Linked DNA regions of Homo sapiens: regions 1, 3, 4, 5 and 6 are each reported to be linked to region 2. The links are microRNA targets in miRTarBase. Many come from high-throughput screens and were not tested one by one. Region 2 holds a microRNA gene; each other region holds the end of a gene's coding sequence.

Region 1 (4,093 bases), not on the chromosome of region 2:
ATGCTGTGAAGTTCAAGACTGGGTGTTGGTAGATTCCGTGTCTGATGAAGGCCTGCTTCCTGGTTCACAGAAAAGGTGAAGGAGCTCTTTGGGGTCTCTCTCTCTCTTTTTTTTTTTTTTTTTTTTGAGACGGAGTCTTGCTTGCTGTGTCACCAGGCTGGTGCAGTGGCATGATCTCGGCTCACTGCAACCTCTGCCTCCCGGGTTCAAGCGATTCCCCTGCCTCAGCCTCCCCAGTAGCTGGGACTACAGGTGCGCACCACCACGCTTGACTAATTTTTTATATTTTAGTAGAAATGGGGTTTCACCATGTTGGCCAGGATGGTCTCGATCTCCTGACCTCGTGATCTGCCTGCCTCAGCCTCCCAAAGTGTTGGAATTACAGGCGTGAGCCACCACGCCCAGTCTGGGGTCTCTTTTATAAGGGTACTGATCCTATTCATGAGGACTCTGCCTTCATGACCTAATTCCCCCCAAAAAGCGCCACCTTCTAATACCATCACCTTGGGAATTAGGTTTTCAACATTTTAATTTTAGGAGGGACACAAATATTCGGTCCATAACACTGGCCTTTTTAAAGACTTCTTCAGTGATATCTCCAATTTCTGTAATATGAAGACAGCAGCATATGCTGCTGTGTAAGATTAGACTGACTCTCCTCTTCTCAGAGGTCTTGTCAGTCTTTCTCCTCTTAAGTTCTGGAAGATTTGCCAGGCATTAGTTGACAGGCATCCTTCCCAAGCTTTGCTCCAAAATCCATAAAAACATGCACATTTTCCTCAAGAAACTAAAATTTTACAAATATGAATGTATAAACCACTGATAGGGATGAATGTGTTAGCCCTTTTTCTTCACTCTTGGTTTATTTGCTTTTGTTGGTTTTTATAAAAGAGTCATTATACTTTCTTGCTAGTCTCTTTAGAGGCATTCACTGACATCTCTCTGTTGTCACCTTAAAAAGACAAAATGTATTGCCCACCAAGATCAAGGAAAGTTGACCCTCCCATGGGATGTATAAATGTGTTCGCTGTGATAGCTCTGTTCTTCTTCAGTCACCTGATCCAGCCCCCTCTAGCTTTTTCTAGAAAGTTCTCTCTTTACTCCTCCACCCTTGCAGCAACACAGAGGTAAGGGAGTTTTCTTCAGTTCTTCAATCACGCTCCTGATCATGTTCTGGTCACTGAACGTTATGTCCTCTAAAGTTTTGTGCTCGTCGCCTACCATCACAGAAACTCCCACGATAGGAGTCTTAATTTAGTTCTCCTTCAACCAATTACATTGTGACCCCGTTCCCTGACCTTTACCATTTCCAGCAAATTCTGTTCTTATCATCCCACTCTCCCAGAAACACCAAGGAGACAGGGCTCATTTTGGTACTTCAAAAAACCATATTCTGAACCCAAGCATTGACACTTTTATTTCTTCCAGAAAGTCTGTCCTTATTCCTCATTCTCCCCCAAAAACCCCAGTGAGGAGGCTTCAGCTTTCTTTCAACTAATCATGTTCTGATCTCACACCCCCACAGCTAGCTTTTTTTGTGAGGGAGGTAGATTGAGGCTACTTTGGGAAATCCACAATTGGTCTTTGCCAGAAGGCATAGTACTCATTTTCAGAGGAACCAAAAGATCATTCATGGACTCTACTCAGTCAACTAGCCTTTTTGAAGTGCCTGAGTTCACCACTGTGCATTTTCAAATCAGACTCTATATCATCCTCTTCCTCTAGACAGGTGAAAGATCACTCCAGCTCCAAAATTATCTGAGGCAGAGTTTCCCTTAAATGTGGTTCTCAGTTGAACATGCAGGAATTCTGATGACTAAATAGTGTGAAGTTCATATAAAGTGATTTTTGCATAAGTTGTATATGCTTTTCCATTTACACTGATTGGCAATCAGTACATAATGCAAAAATTTCCAAATAATTCTTTGTGGAGGCAATGTGGTGAGAAGACAAGCACCCTGAAGCACCAAGGCTGTGGTCACAGCTTTCACTAATTGGCTGTATGACCTTAGGAAAAATCGCTTTCTTAACAATTCTTCACTTGTGAAACCAAGTTTGCACCAAATAAGTGATTTTCATTCTTTTTTCACTGTGATCTAGTTAGAAATACATCATAAAGGTGGCAATATTTACTACATAGAACACATTATTTTCTCCAAAACAATTCTTAACACTACTCACGGGTGATAGGATGACTTTTGTTCTCTTTTTAAAAAATTGCTTGTTGTAACCCACAAAACTGATTTCAAGAGCCATAGAGTGGCAATCCTAACTTTGAACAACACTAGAGGATCTTACTTTTTTTATCCCTCAATATTCTAAAAATTAAAGTGTACTTGAGATGTAGAAAAACAGTGTATAGAAAAACAGCCCCATTCTTGCTGAGTCTCTTTTACCATCCTCAGCTTGTCATCAAGTTACAAAAGTCAAATATTCTGCATCTCCAGATGATAAGGTCCAATAGAAAATGGCCCAGGCTGGATTCCCCCACCCCCAAGATATTCAGCAGGAGTTAGCCTTGGTACTTAACATCTCTAAGCCCCAGTGACCTCATCTGTAAAAGTGGGATAACAATACAGATTTTATAGGTTGTTCTAAGAATAAAATGAGATCCTGGATGTGAAACTGCTGACAGGGGTGATGAATTCTGAGTTCCTCAGGCTGTGACCTTCAGGCATGTTTTGCTTTGCACAGTGAATAACTTTGCCACTGTCCCTACCACTCCTATAATCATCAGTCTTATTTTAAGGTCTCATACTTTTCTTTTTTAATTACTTGCCCATCAAAGTCAGATTTATCTTGATATTGTTTATTGTTTACGGTTATGACACATTATATATATACACACACACACATATGTATATAGTTACGTACACACACACCAATGGCACTGATTTTGGTACACATCAGAATTACTTAAGAGAGTTTGTTAAAAATGGAGATTCTGGAGCCCCACTCTGTGAGTCTGGACGATAGGTCCTACATTTTTAAATGCCCCTGCCTGCCCCCAAGGTGTTTTTATACAGATGGTAGACTCACTCTGAAAAACACTAGAACATACATTCTTAAAATATCAAACATTGAATTCTGGGTATGATCATTCTTTTTTGGTCAGGGACAAGAAAAAAACTGTCAAAGACAACTGAGATTTTGAGTCCAGGTAGCCGGAGGAGGAAAAGTAATACTTACAAAAATAAGGACTGGAATGAAAAAGGAAGATGATGGAATACAGACTGCTTTTTGAACTGCTTTATGCATTTCATATTATGAAAAGAGTATTTTTCCTAAAATAGGTGAATTGCCATGCTGACCGTAACTTTTAGGCTGAGACAAAACAATATTCAATTAGAATTCTAATTTCCATTAGAAACTGGTAAGTGTAAACCCCAAAAGGCTTACAGAAAAAGTAAATCACAAAAATACAAGCTTGTAAAGCAGTGTTCACATTAACCTCAGCGAAAACTTTTAGGATTCAAGGTATGAGGCAAAAGTCATAATGGTTGTCAGGTTCAGGAGTTTGGAAGCGCATATAGTGCCTCATCTGCTGTTCCCTAGTCTTTCTCTTGATTTCCATCATCTGCCCTACAAACCTTTCTACATCATCTCTCGCTTCATTGTGCTCAATATGCCTATTAGGTATGGCCCATCGAAAATTAGGGACAAGTCGCCTAACTCGCCCCCGCCTGATATTTCCTCCAGGCTTCTGGCCTTCACCCCCTCCCAAATGGCGGGATTCTTCTTCATTCTGCGTGGGGGCCTGCTCCCCTCCTTCGTTTTCTTGTTGGGCATTTTCCCCGTTGAGATTGTTTGCCGCTAGTTCCTCTTTGGACTCCATTACTCCTAGGAGACAAGAGAGAGAAAATGGGCTGAATTCTTGGTGGACTGATAAGCACTGAGGACAGAGGCCCTACTAGGCACCTTTTAAAATTCAGAGCCCTGGACTTGACTTTATACTCTAACATTTCATTTTTTTCCACCTGAGAAGCCAGTATGCCCTGTGGGGTGCCCTCAATCCGAGCCCCTCCCTTCCGCAAAGCCCACCATTTTCCCTGTAGATCCATCTCCAGGCTTCCGCAGGCAGCAAAATGGAGGA
Region 2 (4,093 bases):
TATTAGATATCTCTAGATATAAATATATATGTATATAATTTATAAAATGGGCAAAAAAAATCTGAACAGACATTTCTTAAAATAAGATATAAAGATGGCCAACAGATACATGAAAAACTGCTCAACATCACTAATGATCAGGGAAGTGTATATAATAGAATGGCTATAATAAAAAGAAAAAAAGCAGCCAGGCGCAGTGCCTCAAGCCTGTAATCCCAGCACTTTGGTAGACTGAGGCTGGCGGATCACCTGAGGTCAGGAGTTCGAGACCAGCCTGGTTAACATGGTGAAACTCCGTCTCTACTGAAAATACAAAAAATTAGCCGGATGTGGTTGCACGTACCTGTAGTCCAGCTACTTGGGAGGCTGAGGCAGAAGAATTGCCTGATCCCAAGAGGCAGAGGTTGCAGTGAGCCAAGGTCACGCCATTGAACTCCAGCCTGGGCAACAGAGCGAGACCTGATACTCTGCCTCAAAAAAAAAAGTAACATGCTGGCAAGGATGTGGAGAAAAAGCAAGTCTTGTGTTTTGTACACTGTTAATGGAAATGCAAATTAGTTCAGTAATTATGGAAAATAGTATGGAAGTTCCTCAAAAAACTAAAAATAAAACCACCATATGATATAGCAATCCCATTACTAGGTATTTACCCAAAGAAAATAAATCAATTATAGAAGACGTATCTGTATCTCCATATTTATTGCAGCACTATTCGTGATAGCCAAGATAAGGAATCAAGCTAAATGTTCTTTAAAAGATGAACAGTTGAGGAAATTGTGGCATATATATACAATACAATAATATCCAGTCATGAAAAATAAAATTCTGTCATTCTGCCATTCACAGATAAACCTGGAAGGTATTATGTTAGGTGAGATAAGTCAGGCACAGAAAGATAAACACTGCATGTTCTCTCATATGTGGGAGTTAAAAAATGAGCTTATAGAAGTATAGAGTAGAATTATGGTAATCACAGTTTGATAATGTTATTAAAGACAGAGAAAGGTTGATTAATGGATACAAAGTCACAGCTAGACAGGAGGAATAAGTTCTAGTGTTCTATAGCACTATAGGGTAAGCATAGTTAATAATAATTTATAGTGTATATTAAAAAAACTAGAAGAGATTTGGAATATTCCAAACATGAAGAAATGATAAATGTTTGAGGTGATGTTTATCCTAATTACTCTGATTTGATCATTACACTTCATATACATTTATCAAAATATCACTCTGCAGATTATAAATACATACAATTAATATGTGTAAACTAAAATGCAAAGGAAGAAAAACCCAACAAAGCAATTTCTCCACACGTTACCTAATCCACAACAAATGGCTTCTGAAGTTTACCTCAAGTAAAGGCCATAAATATGACTCTTTAAGGTAGAAATCTTAGAAGTAAGAGTTACTTAGCTTAATGCCCTCTAGGTTTATCCATATGTATTTCATTGTAGTGTTAGTAGCAATAAAGTATAGAAACGACCTAATTGCTCATTGAATGGTGACTGATAGTGTTACATATACAGCCATGCACTGTGTATTGCATCAGTCAACAAAAAACCACATATATAAATGTGGTCCAATAAGATTACGATACTGTGTTTTTAGTGTAATTTTTCTTTGTTTTGGTATGTTTAGATGTACGGATGCTATTGTGTTACAATTGCCTATAGCATTCAGTATAATAATAAGCTATACAGAGTTGTAGCCTAGGAGATACAGTCTATGTCATATTGTCTAAGTGTGTAGTACGTTACACTGCTGTGGGACAGGCAAGGCCCCAAACTGGGGCTTAGCCAGGGAGGATTTCTTGCTTAACCCCGGAAAAAATTCAAGGATGAGCTAGGAGTCTTAGCAATCGTTTATTGAATGGTACTGCTCCTTGCAGAGCAGGGCTAAATCATAGGCAGTGCAATCAGAGTCAGCAACATATGGTCTCTTGGCAACGGTATTTATACTCAGCGAGACCCACATTCAATTGCATGCAAATTGAGGGGTGAGCCAATGCAAATTGAGGGGCAGGTTGTTTAGAACTTTCTAAGGCAGGTCAAATGCATGCAAATTGAGGGGTGAGCCAATGCAAATTGAGGGGCAGGTTGTTTAGAACTTTCTAAGGCAGGGGCAGTAACTTTTAGGTTGTTGCCATGGAAAGAGGTGGTAACTTCTGGGTTGTGTTGCCAGGCTGCTCATATTGCTCATTAGCATAAGACACTACCACCAGCACCATGACAATTAAATTGCAATGAGTAGTTAGAGATTGCTTTTGTTGACATCTGCCACTTCCTATCAGTTTCTTCACTTCATGCTCTCTGGCCAGATCCTGTTTTGGTTAGCAGGGTTGTGACCAAAAAAAAGTCCTGCTGAAAGATGAATGGATAGTGTTATATATACAGCCATGCACTGTGTACCCAAACTACAGAGTGCATGGCTGTATATATAACAGCATCCACTCAATACCATCTAGGTTTGGATAAGGACACTCCATGATGTTCAAACAATGATAAAATTGCCTTAAGGTACATTTCCCTGTTAAGCAATGCATGACTGTGTGTGTGTATATATGTATATGACCATGAAATATTATTCAGCCTTAAAATAGAAGGGGATTCTGCCATATGAGGCAACATGAAAGAAATAAGTTCTATTGTTGGGGGTGAATAGCCATGAGAGTGGAGAAGGCCATCAGTTAATCCATGGTTTGTGGCATTGGCCAAGCATGACAAGCAGTGAAACCATATTCAAATATGGAATCAACTTTTCTGACGATGACAACAAACAACTGTTGGCTTTACTATACAAGTCAGAGGCAATTGTAAGGCTCTTTGTTGTTTAATGCCCCACAGGTAAAACTTTTCTGTCCAGGGAATATTCTAGAGCAATACTGTGCAAGAGACCATTGTGTGATAACACGTGTTCTACCCTTGCATAGTCCAATATAGTAGCCTGTAGCCACATGTGCCTTTGAGTATTTCAAATACAGCTAACACAATGGAGGGACTGACTTTTTAATTATTTTAATGTTTAGTTAATTAAACATTAAAATTAACTTTAAATAGCCAAGTGTAGCTCCAAGAAACATCTGGAGCTACCAGGAACTGGAAGAGATAAGAAAGAATTGTCTCCTAGAATCCTGGATTAAATGCAATCCTGCCGACACCCGAGTTTGAACTGGCTTCTAGAACTGGGGGAGAATACATTTCTGTTCTTTTAGCCATTTGTTTTATGCTAATCTGTTATGGCAGCCTGAGGAAACTAAAACAGATGGCTTCGGGGAGAAATTTGAAACAGAAGCAAGAAGTAAAAACAGTAAGAAACAAACAAGTATGTATTCATCACAGAGGTACAGAAATTAACCATCAAATATCCCAGGCCCTAGGGGAGGAAGTGCCACGGTGGCAGCAGCGCTATCTCATCAGACTGTTCCTGTGGGGGGATTTTACTGCCATTCTGGAACCTGGTTTCCATGGGGCTGCCCTGTTCTGAGCCTGTTTCTTTAGCCTTCCAATAATTATATGATTTATCCAATATAATCTATTACCTGGTTTAGGTCAATTGGAATGGATTTCAGTCATCTACAACCAAGAACACTGACAGGTATACTAACACCTGTCAGATAGTATTGTGAATTGTGGGGAAAGTGTTCCTAAACATGACAAAACACAAGAAAGCATTAAAAAATGGTGACAGATATGAGTATTTATGAGTTAGTTAATAAACATATATGACAATTTATATGGAAAACAAAGTATGTGATGCATGATGGATTAGGAAAACATACAATATATGTAACGAAATGATATACAATGTCAATATTTATTTTTAAGAAGCAATACTAAATTACAAAATAAAATATATACAATTCTATAGGAATAGAATGCAAATTACCAATACATACATGAAAATTAGAAAACTTTTGCAATTAGAAAAATATAAATCAAAACAATAGTGTTATACTACTTTTTTCTGAAATTAAATTGCAAAATTAATATATCCAAAGATACTCAACATGATCCATATTAGACATGGATGTGTGAAGAAGGCACTCCAATCTAGGTTTTTAAGGATATAAATTTGTAAAGCCGTGTCTCAA
Region 3 (4,093 bases), not on the chromosome of region 2:
AGAACTCGGAAATAAGACCACACACCTACCTATAGCCATCTGATCTTCTACAAACCTGACAAAAACAAATAATGGGAAAAATATTTCTTATTTAATAAATGGTGCTAGGAGAACTGACTAGCCATATGCAGAAAACTGAAACTGGACACCTTCCTTACACCATATACAAAAATCAACTCAAGATGGATTAAAGACTTAAATTTAAAACTCAAAACTATAAAAACGCTAGAAGAAAACCTAGGCAATACCATTCAGGACATAGGAATGGGCAAAGATTGCATGACGAAGTGTCAAAAGCAATTGCAACAAAAGCAAAAACTGACACACGGGATCTGATTAAACTAAAGAACTTCTGCATGGCAAAACTAACAACAGAGTAAAAAAGACAACCTACAGAATGGGAGACAATTTTTACAATCTGTGCATATGACAAAGGTCTCATATGCAGCATCTATAAAGAACTTATGATATTGACAAGAAAAAAGAAAACCCATTAAAAAGTGGGCAAACGACATGAACAGACACTTCTCAAAAGAAGACATACATGAGGCCAACAAGTATATGAAAAAAAGCTCAGTATCACTGATCATTAGAGAAATGCAAATCAAAACCACAATGAGACACCACCTCACACCAGTCAGAATGGCTATTATTAAAAGTCATAAAAACAACAGATGGTAGCGAGGTTATGGAGAAAAAGGAACACTTTTACACTGTTGGTGGAAGTGTAAATTAGTTCAACCATTGTGAAAGACTGTGATGGTTCCTCAAAGACCTAAAGAGAGAAATACCATTTGAGCCAGCAAACCCGTAACTGGATATATGCTCAAAGGAATGCAAATTGTTCTCTTATAAAAACATGCACGTGTATGTTCACTGCAGCACTATTCACAATAGCAAAGGCATGGAATCTAACCTAAATGCCAGTCAGTGATAGACTGGATAAAGAAAACGTACATATACGCCATGGAATACTATGCAGTCATAAAAAGGAATGGGATCATGTCCTTTGCAGGGACACAGATGAAGCTGGAGATCATTATCCTGAACAAACTAACATAGGAACAGAAAACCAACTACTGCATGTTCTCATAAGCGGGAGCTAAACGATAAGAACATATTGGACTCAATGGTGGAAGGAACAACACACACTGGTGTCTGGCAGAGGGTGGGGGCTGGGAGGAGGAAGAGGATCAGTTAGAATAGCTAGTGGATGCTGGGGTTAATACCTGGGTGATGGGATGATTTGTGCAGCAAACCACCATGACACACATGTACCTCTGTAAGAAACCTGCATGTCCTGCACATGGACCCCTGAACTTAAAAGTTGGAAATTTAAAAAAAAAAAAAAAAAGAAATTTCAATGATCTAAACCTTACAATTAGATTAAAAACCAATATTAAAATAAGTTGTTTCTGTAGGTCTTGAAAAAGGTCACTTTTCTTTAAATAAGTTATTTCAAATTCATTACTAGGAATAAATAATCTGGTTTTTAAGTACATAGTAAATACAATTATAATACTTACCTTCAGCACAAGAGTGACATGATTCTCTGGATGTGACTTTGAAGGAATAATTTCCATATAGTGTTTGGGCACTTTGTATCTCAGCAGTCAATTATACACAAACACAAACAACTTTACCACTGTGGTAGAATGTCATAAAATATTAAGGATACTTTCTTTACAAAAGCTGTGATGACACATATGAAGTTTCTAAACTTTTAACAGGACTGGAAAACCAATGCAGAAATCTGCTCAGTAGACAACTTAAAATCTAAACCCAAACATATTTTGATAGATACAATATGCAAAATCTAACTTTACAACAGGAATAGTACTAATTCCTTGTCATTAACACCTTACTAGTACATTAATACCTTTACAAACAGCATCATATAATAGCATAATATTTCATCTTACTCCTCCATCCAGGATCTTTTGTGAGAGGCACTAATAAAGAACACTAGTTTTGGCGACGCTGTATCAAACATACACATAGTATAATGGTCTATTTTACTATGTTCACAAAACATCATTTATAAAGAAATTTTTATGAATTCAAAAATAGGTTGTTAGTAACATGATTACCTTTAAAGTATGGATTTTGATTTTCATTCACAATATTAATTCATTAATCTTAAACAGTAGTTTCATCTACAAAATGTTCTACAGCTTTTTCCTTTTTGAAAAGGAATAAAGGCAGTTAAGATACTCATAACTTCTAGTTAAACAACATCAATTTTGTTTCACAGTATTAATTAGTAGAGAACATTTTCAATTAAAGTGATATACAATTTACAAAAATAGAATGATTTATATATTGCAAAACATTGTCCTCCATTATGAAGAATATATATATACATGTGTGTATGTGTATATATGTGTATATATAAATATTTCTTTTAAATTTTACAATAGCCCTTATTCAAGTACTTTGGGATTCTCTTGAAATAATCACCTTGCTGTATATTGTAAATACATTTAAAAAGTAAGATTAATCTAAGAAAAGGATAAAAGTTTCAGTGTAGTTTGACTTAAAAAAAATCAACCACTTACTTGAGTAAAAACCTGACTGAATTCAAAACAGGTTCCGGTGCCATACTAAGTTCAAGAACTTTGTTAAAAATATAGATAAATTTAAGTGTCAAAGACTTAAACATTTTCCAATTTGCTAGCATTAGAGCAGAATTAAAAGATTGTATTAATCTATTAACTATCCAATCTTAATCCCCAGACAAAATTCATTTATCTAGTATTACTAATACACTAATATACAATATACCTGCTTACAAACACATAGGTAGCCATAAATAAAACTTTATTCTTTATTTCATTTACAAGCTACCAAATATTATGTATCGTACACAGTGCTGAACACTTAAATGGCTGTAGTCATGGAAGGATCCAGACTGAATGGAAAGCTGTTGAGAAAGAAAAGATAAAAGCAAAGTAATACTGCAACAGGAAGGTGGCAAAAGCATAGTTTTGCCATAATAAAATCAATTAGATTTGTGATTATACATCAGTTCCGGTTAAAATGTCTGAGCGCCATGCGATTTTCAGCTTTATTGTCTGCAGTCTGACTAAAGTCTGTATAGTCATTTTGTCTTTTGCAGTTATTAAAATAAAAAAAAGTTAAAAACTATAGCAGCAACAAGCAAACCCTGTGACAGGAAGGCAAGGGTTAAGAACTAAAAAGAGTTTATACAGTGTGTTCAGGGAAAGTGTGCAGTTTATCTTCCATCAGCAGGAGTTCGACTGAGGGACAACATGATTCGGGCAAATCGCTCACAGAGTTCATGCGTGGAATATGAAGGTAACTTCGGTGGCTCATGGAAACTTTTAATCTCCATAGAACAATCAAGCAGTTTTGGCAAAAAATCTGTCAGCTTTTCTTGGAGGTGTGCTGCAAATACAAACAATTAAATCTAACTAAAGATAGAAATTATTACACGATCATTGTCAACATGATTTACTAATATTAACTTACTCTAATAGGTAAGATAATTGCCATTTTGGGGAGACAAAAACATAAATGGCAACTGCAATGCACACAGCTTAGTTCATCAATATGGAAAAAGAGTAATCATGTGAATGTGAAAATATTAATACTTAATATTGTATTTAATATAAAAAATGGCAAGAATAAATAACATCTAATTCTAACTGCATTTAATCCGGACATCTCAGGTGCCTACTACCATTGTTTAAACTTACGTTCCATTTCTTGACCAAGGTAGGAACACCATCGATTTCTCATATCTTCTACAGCTAGTATATCCTTTTCTTCCATTTCATCCACCAGTAATAATGGCAAAAATGGGACAATAAACTCATTCATGATAATCAAACCATTGTTTACTTCTCGATCCTCTCCAGATTCGAAGAGTTCTGCGGCTTGCTCATTTAATTTCTTAATGCAATGCAGGAAAAAAAAAAGAATAGGTTTTTGTTTCCTTTTTAAATTAAGGATCTGTAAGTATTAATAAGGAAGACAACATAAATATGTTCACAAACAGTATTAGAACAAACGGTATTTAGAGAAAACAATCTCAACCTATCTAGAACTGAAAATCTCTCTTTAGAAAAAG
Region 4 (4,093 bases), not on the chromosome of region 2:
AATGTGCCAGGTCGGTGCAGTGGCTCACACCTGTAATCGCAGCACTTTGGGAGACCAAGACAGGCAAATCGCTTGAGCCCAGGCATTTGAGACCAGCCTGGGCAACATGATGAAACCTGGTCTCTACAAAAAAATACACAAAGTAGAATCCAATTTAAATTATATTCAGTTAAGTCAAGGATGTCCATGAAAAGAACATATAAATATGCTAATAGGAGGAAATGGTATAATAAAAATATTAATCCAAAAGAGGCAAGAAACAAGAGAAAAGGGTAGGTAAAATGCCCTGGTCATGGAGAAAATGAATGGTTCAGCTGTAGATGTGAATCCAAACACATAAATAATCATATTAAATGTAACTGGGTTACATATTCCAACTAAGAGACTATGTTTAAAGAAAATCTATATGCTGTTATGAGAAAAATACAAAAGGATTAATACGGATGGAAATGATGTATTATGCAAATACTAACCAAAAGTAACTAATATAGCTACATTAATATATAAAATAAGGTAATAAAGCTTTGGTTGAGACTCATTATGAAGGACATTTCATAATAGAAGGGTCAATCTACCACAAAGACGTAACAATTCTAAATTTATGTTCACTTAGTAAACTAACTTCAAAATAAAAGATTGACATAAAAGATATGCAAATCTACATTCATATCATAATATTCTATCACTTCTCAGGAACTGGTAAGAGCCAGGGAAGAAATCTATAATGATCTAGATCTGTAAAACATGATTAAATTTGACCTAATACACCAAATAAAAAGCATCCAGTAAGGATAGAAACATATTCTTTTCAAGTAGACGTGTTATTTCTCAAAATTGACCATATAGTGGGGTCAAAATGGATGTCTCAATTTCAAATGTATGTTTAATGATAATGTAACATTATGCTGGAGTCAACATAACCAGAAAGTTTTCAAATGTTTGGAAATTAAGCAATACATTGCTAAATAACTCACAGGTTAAAGAAAAAAATCAGAATGCAAACTAGAAAGCATTTTGAAATGAATGATAATAAAAATACAGCATATAGCCTTAAAATGAAGATATTAGAAAACAACTAAAAATCAATTTTCCAAGCAATCGTCTCAAGAAATTAAAAAGTCGAGCAAATTATAGCCAAAGAAAGGTTGGGCGTGGTGACTCATGCCGGTAATCCCAGTACTTTGGGAGGCCAAGGCGGGCGGATCGCTTTGAGCCTCGGAGTTTGAGATGAGCCTGGGCAACATGGAGAAAGCCCATCTCTACAAAAAATACAAAAAAAAAAAAGTTAGCTGGGCATGGTGGCATGTGCCTGTCAGTCGCAGCTCTGCAGTGAACTGTGATGATCGTACCACTGTACTCCAGCCTGGGCAATAGACTGATAGTGAGACTCTCTCTCAAAAGAAAAAAAAATATAGAAAAAATGAGGAGCAAGAACAAATAATATAAAACTATTTGAGCCTTGAAAGTAACTTTTAAAACATATAAGTAAAAAGTGTTTTTGACACTTTTAATAATACACTGCAAGAACTCCCCCTCATGTAAACTAAGGGAAGTGTGTGCTTTGTTTTGTTCAAAACTTTAAAAGCAGAGCATGACTCCTAGTAAAATCTCATCGCCAGCAGCAAACTATTCATGGTACCATCTCCATGTGTAGTTACCATTGTTAGTGACTCTATATACTGGAGCAAACATCTGACTATTCCATTATATTATTTTCATGATGTAGTTGTACCTGAGCATTTGCATATTGAAAAATTTATTTTATTATAAATCACTTTCATTTTTCTTTTATAATAGGGGATTATGGTCTATATCATAACATACTCAATGTAAAGTTATATTTAGATATATTATGAATTTCATGATGGTAAAGGGGAAATCTCAAAATACTTTTAAGAAAGTATCATGTTTGACAGTTGACAATCTCTGGATTTGATGACTGTTAAGGTCCTTCTCAGCCTTAACAGTCTGAGATTTTTTTGTAACCATTACTTCCAACAATAGCTTTGTTCTATTTTGAAACTAGTGTGTGGCAGGCACTGTAAGTGGAACAGTATCTCATTTAAATCTAATCACCCTTATAATAGGTAGTGTTACTGTAACTAACTGTTTATATGAGAAAACAAATTCAGAGAAGTTAAATAATGTGTTCAAGTTCACATACCTAGGTAGAGCTGGACTGACTCCAAACTCATGTTCGTTTCACTCACGAAAAGAACATTAACATAACATACATTACTTTACCTAGAAGAGTTAAACACTATCAGTCAACAAGTGAGGTTAGGCTAATGTAAGCATCTGTAAGAAAGAGTCTCTACCCACCACAGCAAGAAAGAGGAGAAGATGGAATGTATAAATATAGTAGGCACCTTTTTAAAGTCAGGACCAATTAATCATGTAAGGTAGTTATAAATGGATGACATCTAAAAATATATCAGAATAAGTTTCAAGCCATGCAAAATTCACCAAAACAATTTTTATTTCCAGTGTTTAATTGGGTATGCACACAGGCATGACACAGGTTTGGATTCATTAAGTCCTCATGCAGAATTATATTCTTCTCGATAAAGAAGCCAGTTCCATCCAGGATCCACTATCTACACACCTATGTTACAACATTATATCAAATCTGGTATCTGAAGAAAAGATACACATTTAATATGTTCATTTAAGTTACGTATTTTACAGAAAGATTAAAAATTCAAGTCACACAAAACTCAAAAACTGTATTAAAAGTTTGAATATAAAACTCAGATCCACCTGGAATGACTAAAGAATGGAAGTTCTGTATCCACCTGTGTTAAAACTGGTAAATGTAATGATATCTGTTACCAATAAAACGCATTCGTTTATTCAATGTAAGTAAGTTATCTAATTTTAACAATATGGCACCCTAAAAACCAACTGTATTTTTATGATGAGGCACTTTTGTTAGTGATGAAACCAAAAGAACAAATTTGCTGCACACTGATGCCAGCGATTTTCTTCAGTGATTTTGGGTATATGCTATGTAGTAAGTTGCAACAAATACCTTGCTCATTTGTATACAACTATCCGATATATTTTTAAATATATATATATATATATATGTTCTTCTGGCTGTAGTAATGCACTGTAAAGCTATTTCACAGTGCAAAATGATGAAACCAGCCCAAATGAAGGCTGCATAATAACAATTCTGATACAAGAAAATATTGACAGAGTTACTGGAACGTGTAACAGTAGTTTTTTTACTTGCTAGAGTGGACATACCCCCAGTTTAAAGACAGGGATGAAACTCTGCTTTACTGCCTGGGGTTTCAGACAGTTTATGAGGTTGGGCATTCGCTGCAGAACTAGCATTTTTGCTCACGTTCTGGAAGCTTTCTCCGTTTATTTGGTCAGGTGACTGTGGTGGTATGGAAAGAAGGGGCCTGTTTGTTGAAGCCAAGGTGCTGGAAGAACTGCCTGTGTTGCAATGAAGAGACAAAGGTGTGTCGGTCGTGGCTATTTCTCGTGTGCTTGGGTTCTCTGTCTGGGGATCTCCGATTTCTCCTCTGCTAAGGTCAGAGGTACTGGTGCGTAGGCGTTCCCTGGCCAGCCAGTCTGAGATGGAAAGGTCCTGGGCTGAGCATTTTGGTTTTAACCGGTTTACAGCTGAAAGTTCAGATTCTCTCTCCCCGCTCTGCTCATGCACTTTCCAAAAATTCAAAACGCTGATTTCGGTAGCATCTCTGTGCCCTCCTAGTGTATGTCTGCGCCGGATGCTTTTCCTTTTAGCAGTCTCGGCATTCACTTTGTGATTCCCTACTCCAAACATGTCATCCGCAGGGGCTCTGGGTCTCAGTTTTAACCGATCTGCTATTTTCGTTTTCCATGTGGGTTCCTGTTTTTCGGATTCGCCTCTGGTGGGTGTCAGTAAACTCCCAGTTGACTTTCCTTTTTTCATAACATCAAACACTTTAGTTAACGAAGGTGCTTCTTTCTCATTCTTGGCATCTCCTAGACTTCCACTATCTGACTTGAATCTAGCTGATTTTTTCCTGGAAAGAGTATCACATTCGATGAGTTTATGGGAACTGAAGAGCTGTCTCCGGCTATCTAAACTTGATGT
Region 5 (4,082 bases), not on the chromosome of region 2:
ATTCACCTCTGCATTCCCATCCTGTTCATTTTCACTTGCCACTTTCTTATTTGCAAATAAGAAAGTACCTGCTATTTTCCTCAGCGAATCTGCCATTGAAAATTGCCTCTTGGTCTGTGTAAATTTAAATTGCAGTAGCTTATTGTTTTCATAGGGTAGTTGACATCTAATACCTCTATTCTGAGAGGGGAAATCATTTTTTTTTGTAAAACTAACTGCTTCTCTTTATTTTCTCCCTATACCAGCTACAGGCCATATAGCTACCGGCACTTTGCACCCCCCACCACACCCTGCAGCACAGATGTTTGTGACAGTGACTATGCTCCTAGTCGGAGAATGACCTCAGTGGCAACAGCCAAGGGCTATACCAGTGACTTGAACTATGATTCAGAACCTGTGCCCCCACCTCCCACACCCCGAAGCCAATACTTGTCAGCAGAGGAGAACTATGAAAGCTGCCCACCTTCTCCATACACAGAGAGGAGCTATTCTCATCACCTCTACCCACCGCCACCCTCTCCCTGTACAGACTCCTCCTGAGGAGGGGCCCTCCTCCTCTGACTGCCTCCAACGTAAAAATGTAAATATAAATTTGGTTGAGATCTGGAGGGGGGGAGGGAGCTATTAGAGAAGGATGAGGCAGACCATGTACAGTTAAAATTATAAAATGGGGTAGGGAATACTGGAGATATTTGTACAGAAGAAAAGGATATTTATATATTTTCTTAAAACAGCAGATTTGCTGCTTGTGCCATAAAAGTTTGTATAAAAAAAATTTGTACTAAAAGTTTTATTTTTGCAAACTAAATACACAAAGCATGCCTTAAACCCAGTGAAGCAACTGAGTACAAAGGAAACAGGAATAATAAAGGCATCACTGACCAGGAATATCTGGGCTTTATTGATACCAAAAATAAAAAAGAGGAAGAAGAAAAATTAAGTCCATCTCAGAGCAGCAAACCATAGATACATGGATGTAGCCAGATAGCCTTCAGTTAACTAACATTTGAGGGCCAACAAGTAAGAAATGATGAAAGGAAAAAAATGCAATTAATACTAACCTTGGACGAAGGGCTTTGTTTTCTCTAGGAATCCAACAGTGCTAGTGAGGAAAGTAGATATTTCTAAAAACCCATTCTGGGTGTTGCTGTTGTAGGAGAGATCAGCCCTCTGGTAAGATGCCATGAAGCTGTGTGTGTGTGCAAGTCTCTGTCCCTACCTTTAGAATCCATACCTCTGTCAAAATGAATTTTTTTCTCTAGGTATGTTTACCTTGCTGCCTCCTCCAGCAACTTGGTAAGTCATTTTGCTAAGATACCATGATTTTTTTAAGCTGAAGCATTGACTAAATGGAATTTTCTAAATTAAACTTGATTTTAATATTTCTTCTAGCTCCATTCCCCAGTAGGCTTAGCTCTTCAATTTGACTGCTGTTTTTGCATAATGATCAAAAGTTAGACATATTATTTCTCTTCTTCCAAGATTGTTTTAATGCTCATTAAAATGTCTTTTTACAACACATATAGACAATGTTTAAGAATTAAAAATTTAACCATTATGTTTTTGTTGTAAATCTCATATCCTTGCACTACTTTCAGCATATATCACAGTACGAAATCATTTATATATATATATATATATATATATATATATATATATATATATATATATATATTTTGTTTGTTTGTTTGTTTTCTGAGTAAAACATTTAAATATGTTCTGGTTAGAGACAATCTATTTAAAAAGATTTTTTTCTTATTAGGATTTTCCCTATATTAACAGTTTGTGATGTTTTCATGTTCTTTAGACCGGTTTTTCTCAGAATAATGTCTACATACATACCTCTTCTAATGTGTGACATGAATTTAATATCTTTCTGTTACCCACTGTGAATGTTAGGCTGTTTTCAAATTATCCACAAATTATTCTTGTAATCACCCAATATTTTTATGTGGGTCCTCTCTTACCCATTATGGATTAAGATAGTTTAACAAATTTAACAATGAGGATTAAATGAGAAGGCAAACTGTTAACTTCTCAGCTGTCAGAATTTGGGTGGAAGGGAATAATGGAAGCCTCTTTTGTGATCTGCCTGACCTGCTGTCATGTATGGTACTGGGGCTGCTACATCTTGAGCTATCAGGGCTGACCTGTGGAATGATTCTAGCACTTGCTCTGCCACCTTGCCAGAAGTTCGTTTCCTGCTTTTTACACATGTGTAGCACTTCTCTGCTAAAATTGAATGGTTTTAAACTAATGTATTTTTAGCTTAAGAGGTGTTGGTCAGTTAATTATTGAATTTTTTTTTTTTCTTTTTTAATTCTGTCTTGCCAAGGCCTCTCTGGGTTTCAGGGCCCAAGAGAAAACAGTGGAAGAAAGGATTCAGAATTTGGGCAAGGGTGAAGTAACTGTTCATGCAAGTTAAAAATACCTAAGTAAAGTTTTTGAAGATAAAATTGTGGTTTCAGAATAATGCTGATTGTTGGAGACTGTAAGAATCAGGTGCACTTGATTTTGCATATAAGCAAATGGTAAATCTATCAGAATCCTAAAACAGACAAGCATGAACTCTTCCCATTGCTGGAACTAAGTGCCCACAGTGTCAGACAAAATGGACATTGAACTTGGATTCTGTGATACACAGGGCACTTGATGCTTAAATGAAGATGGAAAGGTTAGCAATACCTGGGTGTCAGTTAGAATTTGAGAATTCTATATGTTTACATATTTAAATGTGCATCTTGATCTGGTGGGCTTCCCATGTGGAGACTTGCACTCTAATTAACTAAGAAGAATATTGCCTTGTTGGATCTCAGTCCACGTGCTTGCACTGCGATGGCAATGGCCTCTTCTTCAAAATACTAATTTGTGTGCCAATTTGTTTAAAATTATTTGAAGGCAGTTCAGCCTAATCTCAGTGTTCTCTTTCTGGGGTAGATGAGATGGATTCTTAATATTTCTGGGAGTACTTTTTAATGAGAGAATTGTCAAATTTGGAAAGATTTATTGAGCCTTAGGTTACATGGACAGTTAAGCTTAAGTAAACTGTATATTGATTATCAAACACAAGCTGTAATTGGAAAAGTTGAGAGGAAAAGCATGAGATCACAAATTAGGGGGAAAAAAGAAAAGGGATTTTTAAATTTGGTGTATTAAATTCATTGTCCAAGGGGGAAAATGAATAATGTTTCATTAGATTCCTTATATGCAAAAGTATTTATTTTGAACATGTGTCCTAAAATATATGCACTAACTGATGTGATTAAAATTGTCCAAGAAATAAACTTGAGCATAACATACTTTGTGTGCACCACAGTAAGCTATTCTGCATTGAAGTGGTCTTTTATAACTAAGGCCTGGACTTTGCTCCAACAGAGTCGTGGTCTTCTGAATAGTGACTTAAGGAGTTTTGTTTGCTTAAGTCAGATAATAGCACATTCACAGGGAAACAAAGAGAGTTGGTGGATAGAATTTTCTGACTATTAATTTTTCTTCCATGAAATTTTATTATGCCTTTGGCACTTTCTGCCACTCTTACAGCATATCACAAGATATCTGTTTAGCAGAAGATTATGTAGTTACTTTAATTTTAATATAAAAGTAGCTTGTGATACATTACCAAGAGATCTCTGATTCTTTAGTAAGTTTGAGAACACCTATTCTACAGAGATGATAGGTACTTAGAAATGAAGACTTTAAAGTACATTTTAATCTAATATAGGCCAGTAATTGGGGGAAGGGGCTTTGAGCAGTACAATTTTAAGATGATTTTGAGGGTTGTATTTCTTTATCATTTAAAAATATCCTAAAGTCAGTAATTTATATGAAGGAAACTCATTCATTATTGAAGGTATTAAAAATAGCCATCATCTGTATTAGGTAGCAGTTTTGGAGGATCATCTTTTTCTTTTGCTATAAAGCCCTATTAATGAAGAATACTTCCAGTAGAGTTAATAGCTGTAGCTTACCTAGTGTGTTAATGAAGTGTGTTTATTTATGTGACTTGATACCAGTAGTCATAATAGAGACTGAAGAGGTATGCGTTAAGCACGCCTACTTCTATGCAGTAAACAGGCTGCAGC
Region 6 (4,081 bases), not on the chromosome of region 2:
CAGTTAATCACCTGAGACTCTTTTTTTTTTTTTTGAGATGGAGTCTCGCTCTGTTGCTCAAGCTGGAGTGCAGTGGCTCAATCTCGGCTCACTGCAACCTCTGCCTCCTGGGTTCAAGCGATTCTACTGCCTCAGCCTCTCAAGTAGCTGGGACTACAGGCACGCACCACCACGCCCAGCTAATTTTTGTATTTTTAGTAGACGGGGTTTCACCATGTTGGCCAGGATGATCTCAATCTCCTGATCTCGTGATCCGCCCACCTCGGCCTCCCAAAGTGCTGGGATTACAGGCGTGAGCCACCACGCCTGGCCTCACCTGGGACTCTTAAGTGATCTATTCAGGGACAAAATCAGGATGGTAGTGCACAGACAGGATCTTGACATTGATCTGGAATAACGAATCATGCTATTTTGTTATCCAGAATTCTTTGACAATTTTTGTCTTGCCCTTTCCCTTTCAACCCTTCCTTTAAAAAAAGAAAACGAAAGTAGAAACTATTCTGATCTTTATTAAATGGTTAATAGACTATAATGACAGTCAGCAAGAAAAATTTTTCTATTCCTTCTAGGAGGGCTTAGAAAGTTCATGTTGCAACTTAGCTCTTTAAGAATTGTTGTAGTATGGGAAATATGCTGGTTTTCAGCTGTGTGGAATTAGAAAGGCTTTAGGATGTAAATAATGCATTTCAGTGAATCAGACAGCTCTTTTTTTACATGATAAAGTTTGCCATTCTTGTATTTTCAGAAAAAGAAGGGGAGCGTTCAATTCCAAACAGCTGCTTTATTTGGAGAAATACCGACCTAAGATGCGATTACGCTTCAGAGATACCAATGGGCATTGCTGTGTTCAGTAGAAGGAAATGTAAACGAAGGCTGACTTGATTGTGCCATTTAGAGGGAACTCTTGGTACCTGGAAATGTGAATCTGGAATATTACCTGTGTCATCAAAGTAGTGATGGATTCAGTACTCCTCAACCACTCTCCTAATGATTGGAACAAAAGCAAACAAAAAAGAAATCTCTCTATAAAATGAATAAAATGTTTAAGAAAAGAGAAAGAGAAAAGGAATTAATTCAGTGAAGGATGATTTTGCTCCTAGTTTTGGAGTTTGAATTTCTGCCAGGATTGAATTATTTTGAAATCTCCTGTCTTTTTAAACTTTTTCAAAATAGGTCTCTAAGGAAAACCAGCAGAACATTAGCCTGTGCAAAACCATCTGTTTGGGGAGCACACTCTTCCATTATGCTTGGCACATAGATCTCCCTGTGGTGGGATTTTTTTTTTCCCTTTTTTTGTGGGGGAGGGTTGGTGGTATATTTTTCCCCTCTTTTTTCCTTCCTCTCCTACATCTCCCTTTTCCCCCGATCCAAGTTGTAGATGGAATAGAAGCCCTTGTTGCTGTAGATGTGCGTGCAGTCTGGCAGCCTTAAGCCCACCTGGGCACTTTTAGATAAAAAAAAAAAAAAAACAAAAAACAACACCAAAAAAACAGCAGTGATATATATATATATATATATATATATATATATATATATATATATATATATATATATATATATATATAATATAATATATATATATATATATATATTTTCCAGGTGGTTTTTAGTCTTTACTGATGAAAGGGTGTTCATGTTAGTTTCTTCAAAACCCTATCTAATACTAGGCAAAGTAGCCAAGAGCCTTTTGTTTTGTTTTTATTTTGATAAATTAGTGGAGAAATGGCATTTTAAGAGGAGTCTCTTCTCAACTTACCTGAGAGTCGAATTCTTCTCTTCCCTAACCAATGAAGCTAAGTGGTTATCCCAGAAACTTGTCTTCTAAAAGGGAGGACTCCAGGCCATCAATAAAGATGTCCAGGCAGTGAGCGTACTTTTTACACCCTGTAGAATTGTGGGCTGTAGCGTTACTCTGATTTTCTGTCTAGTATCAGAGAATGCTGGTAGCTTAAAATTTTTATTTTAGGACTTGTACTCTGAATTTTCAGGAACCGTCAAAGGAGCAGCAGCAAATTCACATATTTTCGACTTGAGAAATGCTTGTGGTATGTGTTTTCCAAACTGCCCCCTATATGTAAAGTTCAGTTTAACCACTGATTGCCTTGTTATTACTAGGTTTTTTGAGATTAAAAAAAAAAAATCCCTGGTTTAAAACCAACAATGATGCCTAGTGAGTATGTGTCCACAGGCCATAACAGGGTAGAAGAGAGACATCGTGCAACCCAATGAGTAGTGAAGGGACTGTGTTGCTTGTGAAGCGGTGTAGTAGCATTTTTGCAGATTCTTGGCTGGGTTTAGTGTACTGATCTAGAAAAGCTGTTTTTCTGCTCCTTTGTGGAAGGCAGTTATGATCAGGCTGCATGGACAAAGCAGGTAGAGGGGCACCATCAGGGGCTCTTGCACTATTTTCACCTCTAAATATTACGTACTCAGTAGTGCCCTGCTTCTAGGGCTCTGAATACGGGCTTAAAGTCATCTTGTCCTGCTGGAATTTGCTGTGCAGAGCCATAAGCCTCCCATTTTGTTAGCGTCAGCTAGGCCAATAGGAACAGACCGGGACCTTGTCTCACACTGATGATACCTCACATGTTGACCGGCTATGTGAACTGCCTATTTCCTATGCTGGAGTTTTGATTTTTAACTAAACGCAAATCTGTAGATTCTCTCCTCTCCCATCCCAGAAAACAAAACAAAATAATGCTTTTCGAAATTGTTTCTAGGACTTTAAAACATAATGGTATATCCAAAATTCTTTATTTCAGAATGCAACAATAGATTCCATTAATATAGACTCAAGATCAAAACAGCATACCTGCTAAGCTAAGATAGATGGTGTTGATTCCACTGGGTTTTGATCAATACAATAACAAACCTTTTTCCTTTGACATACTCTGAATTTTGTTGTTTGGGGGGAGGGGGTGTGTGTGTGTGTGTGTGTGTGTGTGTGTGTATGTGTGTGTGTGTGTGTGCACGCGCAGTGTCCATCAGTATCAGTGCCTGCCTGAGTTAGGAAAATTACATTCCTGGTTCTGTATTGAGGAGAAGGATGTATAAAGCAACATGAAACATTAGCCCTCCTTTTATTTTAAAGACTAATGTTAATTGTTCTTAAAACTGGATTTTTTTTCCTTAAAGCAATTTTTTTCTTTTCGATTTAATGAAGTATTGCTAGCTGAAGCCAGTTTGACATAGAGAGATGTCAGATTGATTTGAAAGGTGTGCAGCCTGATTTAAAACCAAACCCTGAACCCTTTTAAAGAACAATAAAACATATTTTACACGCTCTTTGTGCATTTTTTTCCTCCATCCTCAAGAGTTTATGTCTGTGCTTATAAAGCGGAGTTTAAGCTGGGTGCAGTGGCTCATGCCTATAATCCCAGCACTTCGGAAGGCCAAGGCAGGCGGATCACTTGAGCCCCAGGAGTTCAAGACCAGCCTGGGTAATGTGTTGAGTCCATCTCTACAAAAAAAAAATGTTTAATAATTAGCTGGGCATGGTGGTGTGTGCTTGCAGTCTCAGCTACTTGGGAGGCTGAGGTGAGAGGAACACTTGAGCCCAAGAGGTTGAGGCTGTAGTGAGCTGTGATCATGCCACTATACTCCAGCCTTGGTGACAGACACCCTGTCCCAAAACAACAACAACAAAACCAAAATTTCACTTACATCTGTTCCCCTTTCTTTGCCTGCTATTTTCAAGGACTGTTTTGGGTCCTGCTAGTTTACTGCAAGGAGGTAAAATAGAGGCTTGGAAATTCAAAGATTTTATGTCACTGAGGTGTTCAGGAAGAGCCAACTTAACCATAGCTGGGATACATCTAGTACATTTTCTGGTTCAGTTCTTGTATACAACCCTGTAGGAATTCAGCATCTTGTCAAAGGCTTGGTTTATACCATAGATTATTATTTTTTAGAGACAGAGTCGTGTAGTGCTTCCCAGGCTGGAGTGCAGTGGCTATTCACAGAGTCAATAATCGCATATACTATGGCCATTCTGAGTAGTCTCTCACTGCACCCAGCTTATTTATACCATAGGTTTTGGTGAAGCATTGCAACTTTGTACTTGAATTCGTATTAAAGAACA

The links. The annotated mature microRNA hsa-miR-5011-5p reads UAUAUAUACAGCCAUGCACUC and lies in region 2 at 2,422-2,442, opposite strand. An mRNA with a match to its seed (bases 2 to 7 or 8) in the 3' UTR can be bound and repressed. Matches are read on the target gene's strand: a 7mer-m8 pairs with bases 2 to 8, a 7mer-A1 pairs with bases 2 to 7 and ends in A, and an 8mer does both.
Region 1: the mRNA of BEX4 is a reported target of hsa-miR-5011-5p. Seed matches in the 3' UTR shown: 8mer at 2,836-2,843 and 8mer at 2,834-2,841.
Region 3: miRTarBase lists USP25 as a target of hsa-miR-5011-5p. Seed matches in the 3' UTR shown: 8mer at 2,387-2,394, 7mer-A1 at 2,377-2,383, 8mer at 2,355-2,362, 8mer at 2,353-2,360, 7mer-m8 at 2,352-2,358 and 7mer-A1 at 2,317-2,323.
Region 4: the mRNA of ARHGAP21 is a reported target of hsa-miR-5011-5p. Seed matches in the 3' UTR shown: 7mer-A1 at 3,083-3,089, 8mer at 3,081-3,088, 8mer at 3,079-3,086, 8mer at 3,077-3,084, 8mer at 3,075-3,082, 8mer at 3,073-3,080 and 2 more.
Region 5: miRTarBase lists LRP6 as a target of hsa-miR-5011-5p. Seed matches in the 3' UTR shown: 7mer-m8 at 715-721, 8mer at 1,623-1,630, 8mer at 1,625-1,632, 8mer at 1,627-1,634, 8mer at 1,629-1,636, 8mer at 1,631-1,638 and 19 more.
Region 6: the mRNA of PTP4A2 is a reported target of hsa-miR-5011-5p. Seed matches in the 3' UTR shown: 7mer-A1 at 1,499-1,505, 8mer at 1,500-1,507, 8mer at 1,502-1,509, 8mer at 1,504-1,511, 8mer at 1,506-1,513, 8mer at 1,508-1,515 and 34 more.

The regions. Positions count from the first base shown.
Region 1 is chrX:103,215,896-103,219,988 of GRCh38, reverse strand. BEX4 (brain expressed X-linked 4) reads right to left here. Exons shown (of 3, transcript NM_001080425.4): 3 at 2,743-3,840. The coding sequence starts at 3,835. The coding sequence ends at 3,473. Among named protein-coding and RNA genes, the nearest start is that of BEX4, 2.8 kb to the right of the region's middle.
Region 2 is chr18:67,079,956-67,084,048 of GRCh38, reverse strand. It overlaps MIR5011 (microRNA 5011), which reads right to left and starts at 2,465; the gene lies at 2,363-2,465.
Region 3 is chr21:15,877,618-15,881,710 of GRCh38, reverse strand. It overlaps USP25 (ubiquitin specific peptidase 25), which reads right to left. Exons shown (of 26, transcript NM_001283041.3): 25 at 3,720-3,915; 26 at 1,647-3,408. The coding sequence ends at 3,236. Among named protein-coding and RNA genes, the nearest start is that of USP25, 150 kb to the right of the region's middle.
Region 4 is chr10:24,581,153-24,585,245 of GRCh38, forward strand. It overlaps ARHGAP21 (Rho GTPase activating protein 21), which reads right to left. Exons shown (of 26, transcript NM_020824.4): 26 at 2,462-4,093. The coding sequence ends at 3,260. Among named protein-coding and RNA genes, the nearest start is that of ARHGAP21, 140 kb to the right of the region's middle.
Region 5 is chr12:12,117,584-12,121,665 of GRCh38, reverse strand. LRP6 (LDL receptor related protein 6) reads left to right here. Exons shown (of 23, transcript NM_002336.3): 23 at 246-4,082. The coding sequence ends at 540. Among named protein-coding and RNA genes, the nearest start is that of MIR1244-4, 7.7 kb to the right of the region's middle.
Region 6 is chr1:31,905,625-31,909,705 of GRCh38, reverse strand. It overlaps PTP4A2 (protein tyrosine phosphatase 4A2), which reads left to right. Exons shown (of 6, transcript NM_080391.4): 6 at 746-3,285. The coding sequence ends at 854. Among named protein-coding and RNA genes, the nearest start is that of PTP4A2, 31 kb to the left of the region's middle.